Linked DNA regions of Homo sapiens. The protein of the gene in region 2 purifies or fractionates together with the protein of the main gene of each other region. This does not show direct contact. Each region holds a gene or a part of one and is shown on either strand. Other genes may lie near its edges. The genes, in order: PTER, SLC27A6 and GUCY1B1.

Region 1 (3,651 bases), on a different chromosome or scaffold from region 2:
TCCTGAACTGAGGAGATTCTCCAAAGATGTGTAGTCATCACTTGGAAGGTCAAATTTAACAATCAAAGAAAATAACTCCAAAAACAGTAGCTTCCAAACAGACCATTACTATTGCAGTGGAGCATTTTGGGCTCAGTTGTATCTCCCTGCAAAATTTGTCTGTTGCAGCCCGAACCCTCAGCACCTTAGGATGTGGTTGTATTTGCAGATAGTCTTTACAGAAGTAATTAAGTTAAAAGGGGGTTGTTAGGGTAGGTCTCAATCCAATAGGACTGGTGTCCCTATAAAAGATCAATACCCAGACATGCATAAAAGGGAAGACGGCCATCCACAAGCCAAAGAGAGAGACCTCAGAAGAGGCCAACACTGCTGACACCTTGATCTGGGACTTCCAGCTGCCAGAGCTGTGAGAAAATAAATGTCTGTTGTTAAAGCCACCCAGTTTGTGGTATTTTGTGATGGCAGCCCTAGGAAGACAAACATAGTGAGTAATCAAGGTCATCTAATCTAAGCTACAGAAATGGCCCTTAATTACACCTGGGGGCTCTACATTTTATTTCATCTTATTTTTATTGTTTTTGAGACAGAGTATCACTCTGTCACCCAGGCTGGTATGCAGTGGCACAATCTTGGCTCACTGCAACCTTCGCCTCCCGGGTTCAGGCGATTCTCCTGCCTCAACCTCCTGAGTAGCTGGACTTACAGACGTATGCCTGGCTAATTTTTGTATTTTTAGTAGAGATGGGGTTTCGCCATGTTGGCCAGGCTGGTATCGAACTCTTGACCTCAAGTGGTCCGCCTGCCTTGGTCTCCCAAAGTGCTAGGATTACAGGCATGAGACACCACGCCTGGCCTGCAGGCTCTGAATTTATAAAGTGAGAAGAAAATCTGTCAAAAGAGCTGGCCAGGCACATGCAAGTCAACCTAATTCTTATTTACTTATTTAATAGAGATGGGAGTCTCACTGTTGCCCAGGCTGGTCTTGAACTCCTGAGCTCAAGCAATCCTCCCGCCTTGGCCTCCCAAAGTGCCGGGATTACAGCATGAGCCACCGTGCATGGCCAACCTAACACTTTTAAACAAATTCTGATGGCAATCAGATGACAGCTCAGGGCATGGGCTCTGACCAAATAAATCTTTATTTCAATTTCTCAATTACATGGTCGGGCTTTATCTGTCCTCCAAACTGTTAGAGAGCAAGACTGATAACATCTAACCTTTCAGATATGCAAGAATGTAGGAGATGAGACATGTCGAATTGTCAAGGCATAAACATGAGATAACTTTGAGAATTTATGAAAATTTAAAAAATGTTTTTAAAAATCAACAAACAAATAATTTGGAAAATAGTAAGCCACATCAGGAAAGAAATTTTGTGGGTACACAGTAACACCAAGGATTTTGTGGTCGCAATGGGCTTTCAGTTACATAAAAGAGCACGAAATTAACAATATTTACCAATATTCTCTTCAAAGTGCTCTTCACACACCAAATAATTACCCAATTAAGCCACTGCAAGATAAGTTGCTATTACTCTGGATTTAGTAAAAAGAACTAATAATTACTCTTTTAACAGTTTCTGTGAAGAAAGAACTCAGTGTTTACCATACACAAGTGAGCACATCCCACCCGTTTAATAAGTAGGGAACAGGAAAAAAAAAAAGGCTGATTATGTAAGTGAATTCAGTGGAGGACACAGATGACTAAGAACCACAACCTGTGAAAACAGAGAATTTAATATGTAAAGCAGAGACCACCATTGGCAAAAGGCTATTTATGAATACTGCCAATACTTAGCATTGCCAGCTGACAATAGAAGATCTTCGGTCATGCCCCGAACAACATAATTCATCACACTAGTGCTTGGGCCAGTCACGTCCAAGCAATTTATCATCATCATATCACTCGCCTGACTATAATAAGGGGAGAACTTTGATTGTTAACCTCTAGGGAGACTGGATTTATAGCCAGTGTCCCCTAAGAATGCAGCACAGCTCTGTCCAAAGCACAATGCTCCCGGCTTGCCTTCTGTTTAACTCAGAATAAAAGAGTGAACACACTGCCCCTAGGACATTAACAGCAAAACCTAAGTCTGATACTCTTAGATCCGAAATCAGATAGCCAGGAAATCATATTTAAAATACTCTTTGAAGCTGCCTGAAAAAAAACGTATTAGTCAATGGTAAGTACGGATGATTCATTTCAAATGTCCTTCAGTGACAAAATAATTTCTGAAATGTATCCACTGATAACTGCATTTGGGAAGAATCATCTTTTCACAACTCACCCACGAACATTCCTCTGTATTGGAAAACTTGGAAGTGCACTGAAAATTGTTAAAAATATATAAATTGTGTTTTTCAAAGTAAAAATGAAAGCCTTGATTCTTATCCCTTCCAGGCATACAGCCTTTACCTATTTTACACTTTAACATGGTCTGCCCTTACAGAATGCAATTAAACATCTAAACGCCATTTTTGCCACTCTTGATTAAAATCACAAAGCAGACTGGAGCATGATGGGAACAGCACACCTGCCATCTCCCACACAGTAAAAGGAGCATGATTCATAGGACAAGCCTCTTTCAGGGCCCTCCCCACAGCTCCCAAGGTATCTGGTAAACCAGAGCCAGAAATCCCCGCATACATGCAGCTTATCTGATAATATTCATTACGCAGGCTTGACCAGGCTAGGCCACAGTAACACTCAAATCCCCGAATCTCAGGGTCTGACCACAACAAAAGTTTATTTCTAGCTCATCGAATACGTCTAACACAGGAAGGCAGGGGGCTCCGCTCACTGTCCTCTATGACCCAGGCTGAGACCACTGCCTCTATCTGGATGGTCACTGCGGCAGAGGGAAAGTGATTGTGACAAATCTTTCACTGGCTTTTAACACAGTTTTACCTGGAAGTGACACAGGTCACTCCACTTGCGTTTCGTTAGCCAAACAAGTCACGTGGACATACCTGCCTGGAAGGAGACAGGGAAATGGCTAACATTCACAGCTCTCACGCTGAGCAGGCACAGAGGTATTTGTACTCAGGTGGTTATTGTTTTGACAAAATAGGTACAACCACAGAGCCAGTTTATGCCAAATGGAACCAGATATTTTATTTTTCTTATTCTTTTTTCTTTTTCTTTTTTTTAAGAGATGATGTCTATGAATGAGAAGCCTTTTGTTATAAAAGTGTTATTAAGGGCCGGGCGTGGTGGCTCATGCCGGGAGGCTGAGGCAGGTGGATCACCTGAGGTCAGGAGTTCAAGAGCAGCCTGATCAACATGATGAAACCCCGTCTCTACCAAAAATACAAAAAAATTAGCTGGGCGTGGTGGTGCATGCCTATATTTCCAGCTAGTTGGGAGGCTGATGCAGGAGAATCACTTAAACCTGGGAGGCAGAGGTTGCAGTGAGTCAAGATAGGGCCACTGCACTCCAGTCTGGGCAATAGAGTGAGACCCTGCCACAAAAAAAAAAAAAAAATCTTGTTAGGAAAACCTGGACCACTGAAAATACACTAGAAACAACAGCTAAAGAAAACAGAACAAAGCCACATTTGATGTATGAAAATATATTCAACAACTACCTCAGTCAAGTTCATAGGGATACTGAGCAGACTCGAGCTTGATCAGAAATTCTCAATATTATTA
Region 2 (3,651 bases):
ATGTTTTTACTGTACCATTTCTGTTTTCACTTAAAAATACTTACCACCATTGTGTTCCAATTGCCTACGATATTCAGTACAGTAATATCCTGGTACAAGTTTGTAGCCTAGGAGCAATAACCCATACCACAGCGCCTAGGTGTGTAGTAAACTATGTCATCTAGGTTCGTGTAGGTACACTCTATGATGTTCACACAACAACAAAATCACCTAACACATTTCTTTTGTTTGTTTGTTTGCTTTTGTTTTTTGGAGTCTCACTCTATTCCCCAGACCGGAGTGTAGTTGCACGATCTCAGCTCACTGTAATCTCTGCCTCCTGTGTTCAAATGATTCTCCTGCCTCAGCTTCCCAAGTAGCTGGGATTACCAGTGTCTGCCACCACACTCGGCTAATTTTTGTATTTTTAGTAGAGACGGGGTTTTGCCATGTTGGCCAGGCTGGTCTCAAACTCCTGACCTCAGGTGATCTGCCTGCCTCAGCCTCCCAAAGTGCTGGGATTACAGGCGTGAGCCACCACGCCTGGCCCGTCTAACACATTTCTAAGAAAAGTATCCTTGTCATTAAGTGATTCATGACTGTATATACTAGCTAACATCAAATAAGGTTGTAGCTGCAAAATCCAAATGAGATCCCTTATTAAAAGCCCCAGGATTACTCTATAATCATAATAGCAATCATTTAAATACAATAAGATCTACTTAGTACATACCAGGCACTCAGCTAGCCACTTTACAAAAGATGTGTCATTTAATCCTCAGAATTATACTGTGAATCAGATGGTATCATCACCATTTTACAACTAAGTTCAGTGAGATCCAGGGTAACTGATGATATTATCTTTAACCATACAGCCAGGAAGTGGCAGACCATACATGGAATTTGGGTCTGTCTGGCTTACCTCCGTCTGAACCACATGATTCATCTTTCTACCTCAATATACTCTCCCTGGGGGTATAATGATTTAATAGTACACCATCAGAAACATCCAATGAGAATCCAAGAAATCTGAAATTTAATGTGCTAAAAAGAGTATGTTTATATTGTTCACAAATGAGACTCCAGATGCCAACAACACAGTATTTTAAGTATAAAAGTGACTATGATCTAAGCTACATCTTATTACAAAATCTGTTAATCAAAATAGAATTTTTCCATCTTTGGAAAACATATATCTCATTTATATTTGAAGGTATGCCAGAAAGAATGGGTGACTTCTCCAGTGACCTACTTACCGAGCCAATCAACTAAATAGTCTTGGCTTAAAACTTCAGTATCCCAAAGTGGCTTTTTTAAATACAAAAAACTGACTGTTGGTGTTAAAAACAAAAATAAGAAAACAATGCAATTAGTTATTGGCAAGCAAAGTAAAAGCTGGCACAAGTAAAACTGCAAAATTAATTGGTCCTAGTTAAACAACAATTCGGTCAACAGAAAAGCCTGAATGCTCTATCTTGAGAAGTAGCCAGTCCTATGTACTTTAAGACGAATCTCTCAGGAAACCGGCTTTGGAATGTCTCCATTTTTTCAGGGACACTGTGGCCCTCTTGGTTGGCCCTTGTAAACAGAACTTACGGCCTTATCAATTATTAGCAAAACTTGGAGTTTACATTTGCTCCTAGACCCTTTCCTCCCGTAATGAAAACAAGATTAAAATGAGTGCTCAGAAGTAAACCTTTGTGTTTTTATTGTTCCAAGATAGCTGAATAGGAACAGCACCAGTCTATAGCTCCTAGCGTGAGCGACGCAGAAGACAGGTGATTTCTGCATTTCCAACTGAGGTACCGGATTCATCTCATTTGGACTTGCTGGACAGTGGGTGCAACCCACAGAGTGTGAGCAAAGTAGGACAGGGCATCGCCTCACCTGGGAAACACAAGGGGTCAGGGAATTCCCTTTCCCAGCCAAGGGAAGCTGTGACAGACGGTACCTGGAAACTCGGGATACTCTCACTCTAATACTGCACTTTTCCAATGGTCTTAGCAAACAGCACACCAGGAAACTATATCCCGTGCCTGGCTTGGTGGGTCCCACACCCACGAAGCCTTGCTCACTGCTAGCACAGCAGTCCGAGATTGAACTGCGAGGTGGCAGCAAGGCTAGGGGAGGGGAGTCCACCACTGCTGAGGCTTCACTAGGTAAACAAAGCAGTGCGGAAGATCGAACTGGGTGGAGCCCACCACAGCTCAAACCGGGCTGTGTGCCTCTGTAGACTCTACCTCTGGGGGCAGGGCATAGCTGAATAAAAGGCAGCAGACACTTCTGCAGACTTAAACGTCCCCATCTGACAGCTCTGAAGAGAGCAGTGGTTCTCCCAGCAGGGAGTTTGAAATCTGAGAACCGACAGACTGCCTCCTCAAGTGGGTCCCTGACCCACGAGTAGCCTAACTGGGAGACATCTCCCAGTAGGGGCCAACTGACACTGCATACAAGCAGGTGCCCCTCTGAGACCAAGCTTCCAGAGGAAGGATCAGGCAGCAACATTTGCTGTTCTGCAGCCTCCGCTGGTGATACCCAGGCAAACGGGGTCTGGAGTGGACCTCCAGCAAACTACAACAGACCTGCAGCTGAGGGTCCTGACTGTTAGAAGGAAAACTAATAAACAGAAAGGAATAGCATCAACACCAACAAAAAGGACATCCACATGAAAACGCCATCTGTAGGTCACCATCATCAAAGACCAAGGGTAAATAAAACCACAAAGATAGGAAACCAGAGCAGAAAAGCTGAAAATTCTAAAAATCAGAGTGCCTCTTCTCCTTCAAAGGATCACAGCTACTTGCCAGCAATGGAACAAAACTGGATGGAGAATGAATTTGATGAGGTGACAGAAGCAGGCTTCAGAAGACCGGTAATAACAAACTTCTCCGAGCTAAAGGGGGATGTTCGAAACCATCACAAAGAAGCTAAAAACCTTGAAAAAAGATTAGATGAATGGCTAATTAGAATAAACAGCATAGAGAGGACTTTAAATGACATGATGGAGCTGAAAACCATGGCACGAGAACTGCATGATGCATGCATAAGCTTCAGTAGCCAATTTGATTAAGTGGAAGAAAGGGTATCAGTGATTGAAGATCAAATGAATGAAATGAAATGAAACGAGAAGAGAAGCTTAGAGAAAAAAGAGTAAAAAGAAAAAACAAAGCCTCGAAGAAATATGGGACTATGTGAAAAGACCAAATCTACGTTTGATTGGTGTACATGAAAGTGATGGGGAGAATGGAACCAAGTTGGAAAACACTTTTCAGGATATTATCCAGGAGAACTTACCCTACCTAGCAAGGCAGACCAACATTCAAATTCAGGAAATACAGACAACGCCACAAAGATACTCCACAAGAAGAGCAACCCCAAGACACATAATTGTCAGATTCACCAAAGTTGAAATGAAGGAAAAATGTTAAGGGCAGCCAGAGAGAAAGGTCGGGTTACCCACAAAGGGAAGCCCATCAGACTAACAGCTGATCTCTTGGCAGAAACTCTACAAGCCAGAAGAGAATGGGGGCCAATATTCAACATTCTTAAAGAAAACAATTTTCAACCCAGAATTTCATATCCAGCCAAACTAAGCTTCATAAGTGAAGGAGAAATAATATCCTTTACAAACAAGCAAATGCTGAGAGATTTTGTCACCACCAGGCCTGCCTT
Region 3 (3,751 bases), on a different chromosome or scaffold from region 2:
CAAAATAAAAATTATAATGGTATTAAGATGGCCAGAAAATTCAAATCCTAAAGTAACTTTTGGTGCCTATGTTCTCATTGGATTCAACCACATACTTGCCAAATCTCGGCTTCTGTTTATAATATGTAGGTAATATGCCCTGTGGATAATACAAATGGTTTCTGAAACATGAAAGAAACGCTCAGTGATACAGATCCAGGGGAAAGAAAAGTTACATTTTCGTGCTTAATATATAACCCTGGTCATTTCTATGGAAACAGATCGTTATGAGAAATCACCATCATGTAACTGCATAATAAGGCCTGTTAGAATTGATTGCTAATAATTGTAATGTGCTTAGGGAAAAACAGCATGGAAGCCTCACCTACCTGAGACAACAAAATGAAATCACTAAGTACAGGAAATCAGAGTGAATAATAACAGTGTATTCCCATCTGCCCACCCAGGAAACCCTTCCTTCCACCTTTGTTACAATGTGATAGTCTGACTGTTGCTCTAATATGAAAATCCATAAATAGGGTTTTGGAGTAGCTAGTTGGTGGTGGTCAGCTGTACCATAAGTTAAATGCAAATTTTTTGAGAGTGAGAGGAAAAAGGAGAGACAACTTTATTAGAGTGAAATAGTCAACCTGCCTGCAGACATGCTGACCCATCAGTCATTCCAACAGGTTTAAACTCTCAGGTGGGTGTGGTATTTCCGTTCACATCCCCAGTACTGGGCTCAAAGCTCCAGGACTGAAAGTAGAATGCCTCCTAGAACTGTTAAGTCTTCAACACAGTAGAAAAAAACGGGGGATAGGGGTTGGGGCGGGGGGGGTGGGCAGTGGGATTTGGGGAAAACAAAAAACTTCCAATTTTCACTTTATTTAAAAATGAATAAATGCGCTTAATTCACTGTTGCTCAAGAAATAATCTCCCGCGTGTTTCAGCATACCAAAAAGGCCTAACTTACGCCAGGTGTGTAAATCATAAAGGAGCCAAAGTCTTCCGTTTGTTTCTAAGGCCTCCGGGCGCAGGAACCTCGCGGAGGCCCGTGTGGTCCCTCGGGGCTCTGCACGCGTGGGAGCTGCCCGGCCTGCTGAGCCTGGGAGCGCCGGCAGCGCGTTCCCACGCTCAGGCCGGGTCGGGAAGCCGTGGTGACCCCTAGGGGCTCCTTTCCGCGGTTCTCGCCCTCGCAGCCCCGCCCCAGCCGCCCCTCCCCTCCTGGTTCCAGTCCCGGAGCGTGGGAGCGCAGCTGCAGCGAGCCGGGAGCGAGGCGCGGAGGCACCTCCAAGGATGCGCGCCCGCGACCCGGCCAGCAGGCTGAGGACCAGGCGAGGCGCGGGGGGCCTCCCACACTGGGCGCCGACCTGGGCCACAGCCAGGGTAGCCGGCCACTTACTTGATGTCTTCCCACACCTCGGGGCCGTAATTGCGGATCACCAGCAACTCCAGGGCGTGATTCACAAATCCGTACTGCGGGGACAGGGAGAGACTTGAGCGTCAGGGACCCGCTGTACCTGAGAAGCGGCTTGGGGGCGAGGCTGCTGCCTCTGCTCCCATGGCGCTGGCTTAACCTTTCACCCCGCCCCTGACTCCTCTCCCTTAGGGGTACTATGCACTAAAGGAGTCGGATCGTGGGGGCGCAACCCCCCAATCCCTGGTGGATTCTCCCCGTCACCATCCGCCCCACCCCCACGCTATCTTCCCACCCTCCTCACCTGTCACCGCTCCGGGAGAGGCTGGGCATCGGGGGCAGCGCGGGGACGCGAACCCGGAGCCTTCCCTTCCGCTGGCGCTCAGCCTCCCACACTGGTGGGGCCGGCCAGAGCCGGGAAGACCCCACGCCTCCGCCGCACCTCCCCTTCCCGAGCTCAGGAAGCTGCGGTGTGGAGCGGCAAACCCGCCTGGGAAGCAAAGGCACCGATCGCCCCCGCCACGACTCGCGGCGTTCCCACCTCCCCTGACTGGGCGCGGGCAAGGAGTGAGGCTGCTCCCGTGGCCGGCAGTGAGCGCCCAGGGCCCCCGAGCCAAGCTCCGGCTGCGCGGCCAGTTCCCTCGCTGCCAGGCCGGCCGAGGAGGGGTGAGGTTCGGGCCGCACCCGGCTGAGAGCACTTACCATGGTGTCTGCACCGGGAGCCGGGGAGGCAGCCCCCACGCAGAGGTACGGCCGAAGGGACCCAGGCAGAGGCGGCAGCGGCTACAGCGCAACCGGGCCGGGGAGGCAGCATCGAGCTGGAGCGAGAACAGCCGCCTTGGCCCGCCCTGATTGCCACCTCTTCCCAGCCAATGGCGAGTCGAGCCGCAGGGGGCTGGTCGGTGCTCCCCAGTTCTTCAACCAATCAGGGACAGAGGAGGGAATTCGGATGCTCTCAATGCTGCTGCGCTCCAGTGCCTTCCCGCCCCCGCCTGGTGACAAGGCCTTCATTTGAGGCCATAACAATGACAGTGGAGAAGCCCCAGCCGTGCTCCTTGCATGAATTCTGGAGCAGAGGAAATGCAGCTCTTGTGGACCCACTAAATGTATTATTATTCAGAGATCTGCCCTCAGTGGTTAACACAAGCAAAAGGGAACAGGGCGTGTTTGTTGTGTGAGCGTGTACGTGTGTACTTTGCAATGGACAGACCTTAAAAGGAATATCCTCTGTTGCTGGCATCCTCATGCTTATCTTTGTCTAGCGGAAAAACATTTCCTCTGTGGCTTGGTCCCACAACAGTTTATGGCAAATTTAAAGCTGGTAATATTGAGAAAAACATATTTTCACTTCTAGTCAATGAGACTAGTTGAGTGAAGCACCAAAAATTTTCAGTAATGTAGTTTGGTGGACGTTATGTTAAATCCAGTCCTGCCCTTTACTAAACTGTACAAGATCCAGCGATATTCTAGGCTTGATCCCTGTGGGACACCTTTCCCTACACCATGTCCGGGAGCCATAATTCCAGGGAGTTTGTAACCCTCTAGAGCGGGCCTCTGTTGCTGTTTCTTAGCAACAGACGAACTGGAAAATGACCAGTACAAAATGCACAGACTTTAACTACTCTACCTCCAGCTTACATTCTACCAGGCCCTTAGGTTAGTTAATGCTCTGAGTCCTGCCATAGAGAGAAGATGAGAGGAACAGGAAGTGGCAGCTTATTAAAGCTGTTTGTACCTGAGGTATATGGACTCCAGTTGACTTTTAGGGCAAGGTCAAAAGTGAGGTCACCAGTCTCAAGTGGACCTGAGAAGCCAGATGGTATTTTAAGATGTGCATATTTTGTTGTGAGAACAGTCTCAATATGGTTAGAGAAAAATGTCAAAACAATAAGATTGTGCTGACATCAGCACCGAGAGAGCTATGATGAAGGAAACTGATACAGAAATAGTGGCATGTAGCAAACAAACAAAACAACAAATTACTTTAAAAATTTCCATTATTGGTGGAATGAGTAAATAGATTACAGCCTTTCATACAATCTAACACCTTGTTTTAAACAACTATTAAAACATTAATCATTATTTAACAACAATTAACCACTAATTTTGAACCATTAAAATGGCACATTAAACAACCATGAAAAAGCAGGAGGGTGACTAGAAAATGATGATGCAGAAAAGTATTGTCAGGTTTACAAAACACCACAAGAATGTAATCATTTTCCATTTTTTAGAGTTAGTATACAGTAAGGTGCTATGTGGGTAATAACACAGGCACATACATGTTGCTGTAAGAATAATGGTTTGGGAGGAAACACAGGAAGTGTTGATATGGCTATCGTCTGTAATTAGAAC

Evidence for each region.
Region 1: the proteins of SLC27A6 (region 2) and PTER purify together in Homo sapiens (affinity purification with mass spectrometry; one large-scale study listed by BioGRID and IntAct). This does not show direct contact.
Region 3: the proteins of SLC27A6 (region 2) and GUCY1B1 purify together in Homo sapiens (affinity purification with mass spectrometry; one large-scale study listed by BioGRID and IntAct). This does not show direct contact.

Annotation. Positions count from the first base shown.
Region 1 is NC_000010.11:16,439,901-16,443,551, reverse strand, and holds part of PTER (N-acetyltaurine hydrolase), read right to left. Parts: intron 1-3,651. UniProt on the Homo sapiens protein: N-acetyltaurine hydrolase that regulates feeding by catalyzing the hydrolysis of N-acetyltaurine into taurine and acetate. N-acetyltaurine has anorexigenic and anti-obesity effects that are dependent on GFRAL receptor and GDF15.
Region 2 is NC_000005.10:128,971,946-128,975,596, reverse strand, and holds part of SLC27A6 (long-chain fatty acid transport protein 6), read right to left. Parts: intron 1-3,651. UniProt on the Homo sapiens protein: Mediates the import of long-chain fatty acids (LCFA) into the cell by facilitating their transport at the plasma membrane.
Region 3 is NC_000004.12:155,757,491-155,761,241, reverse strand, and holds the start of GUCY1B1 (guanylate cyclase soluble subunit beta-1), read right to left. Parts: upstream 2,222-3,751; 5' UTR 2,102-2,221; coding exon 2,099-2,101; intron 1,887-2,098; exon of another isoform or gene 1,701-1,886; intron 1,456-1,700; coding exon 1,382-1,455; intron 1-1,381. UniProt on the Homo sapiens protein: Mediates responses to nitric oxide (NO) by catalyzing the biosynthesis of the signaling molecule cGMP.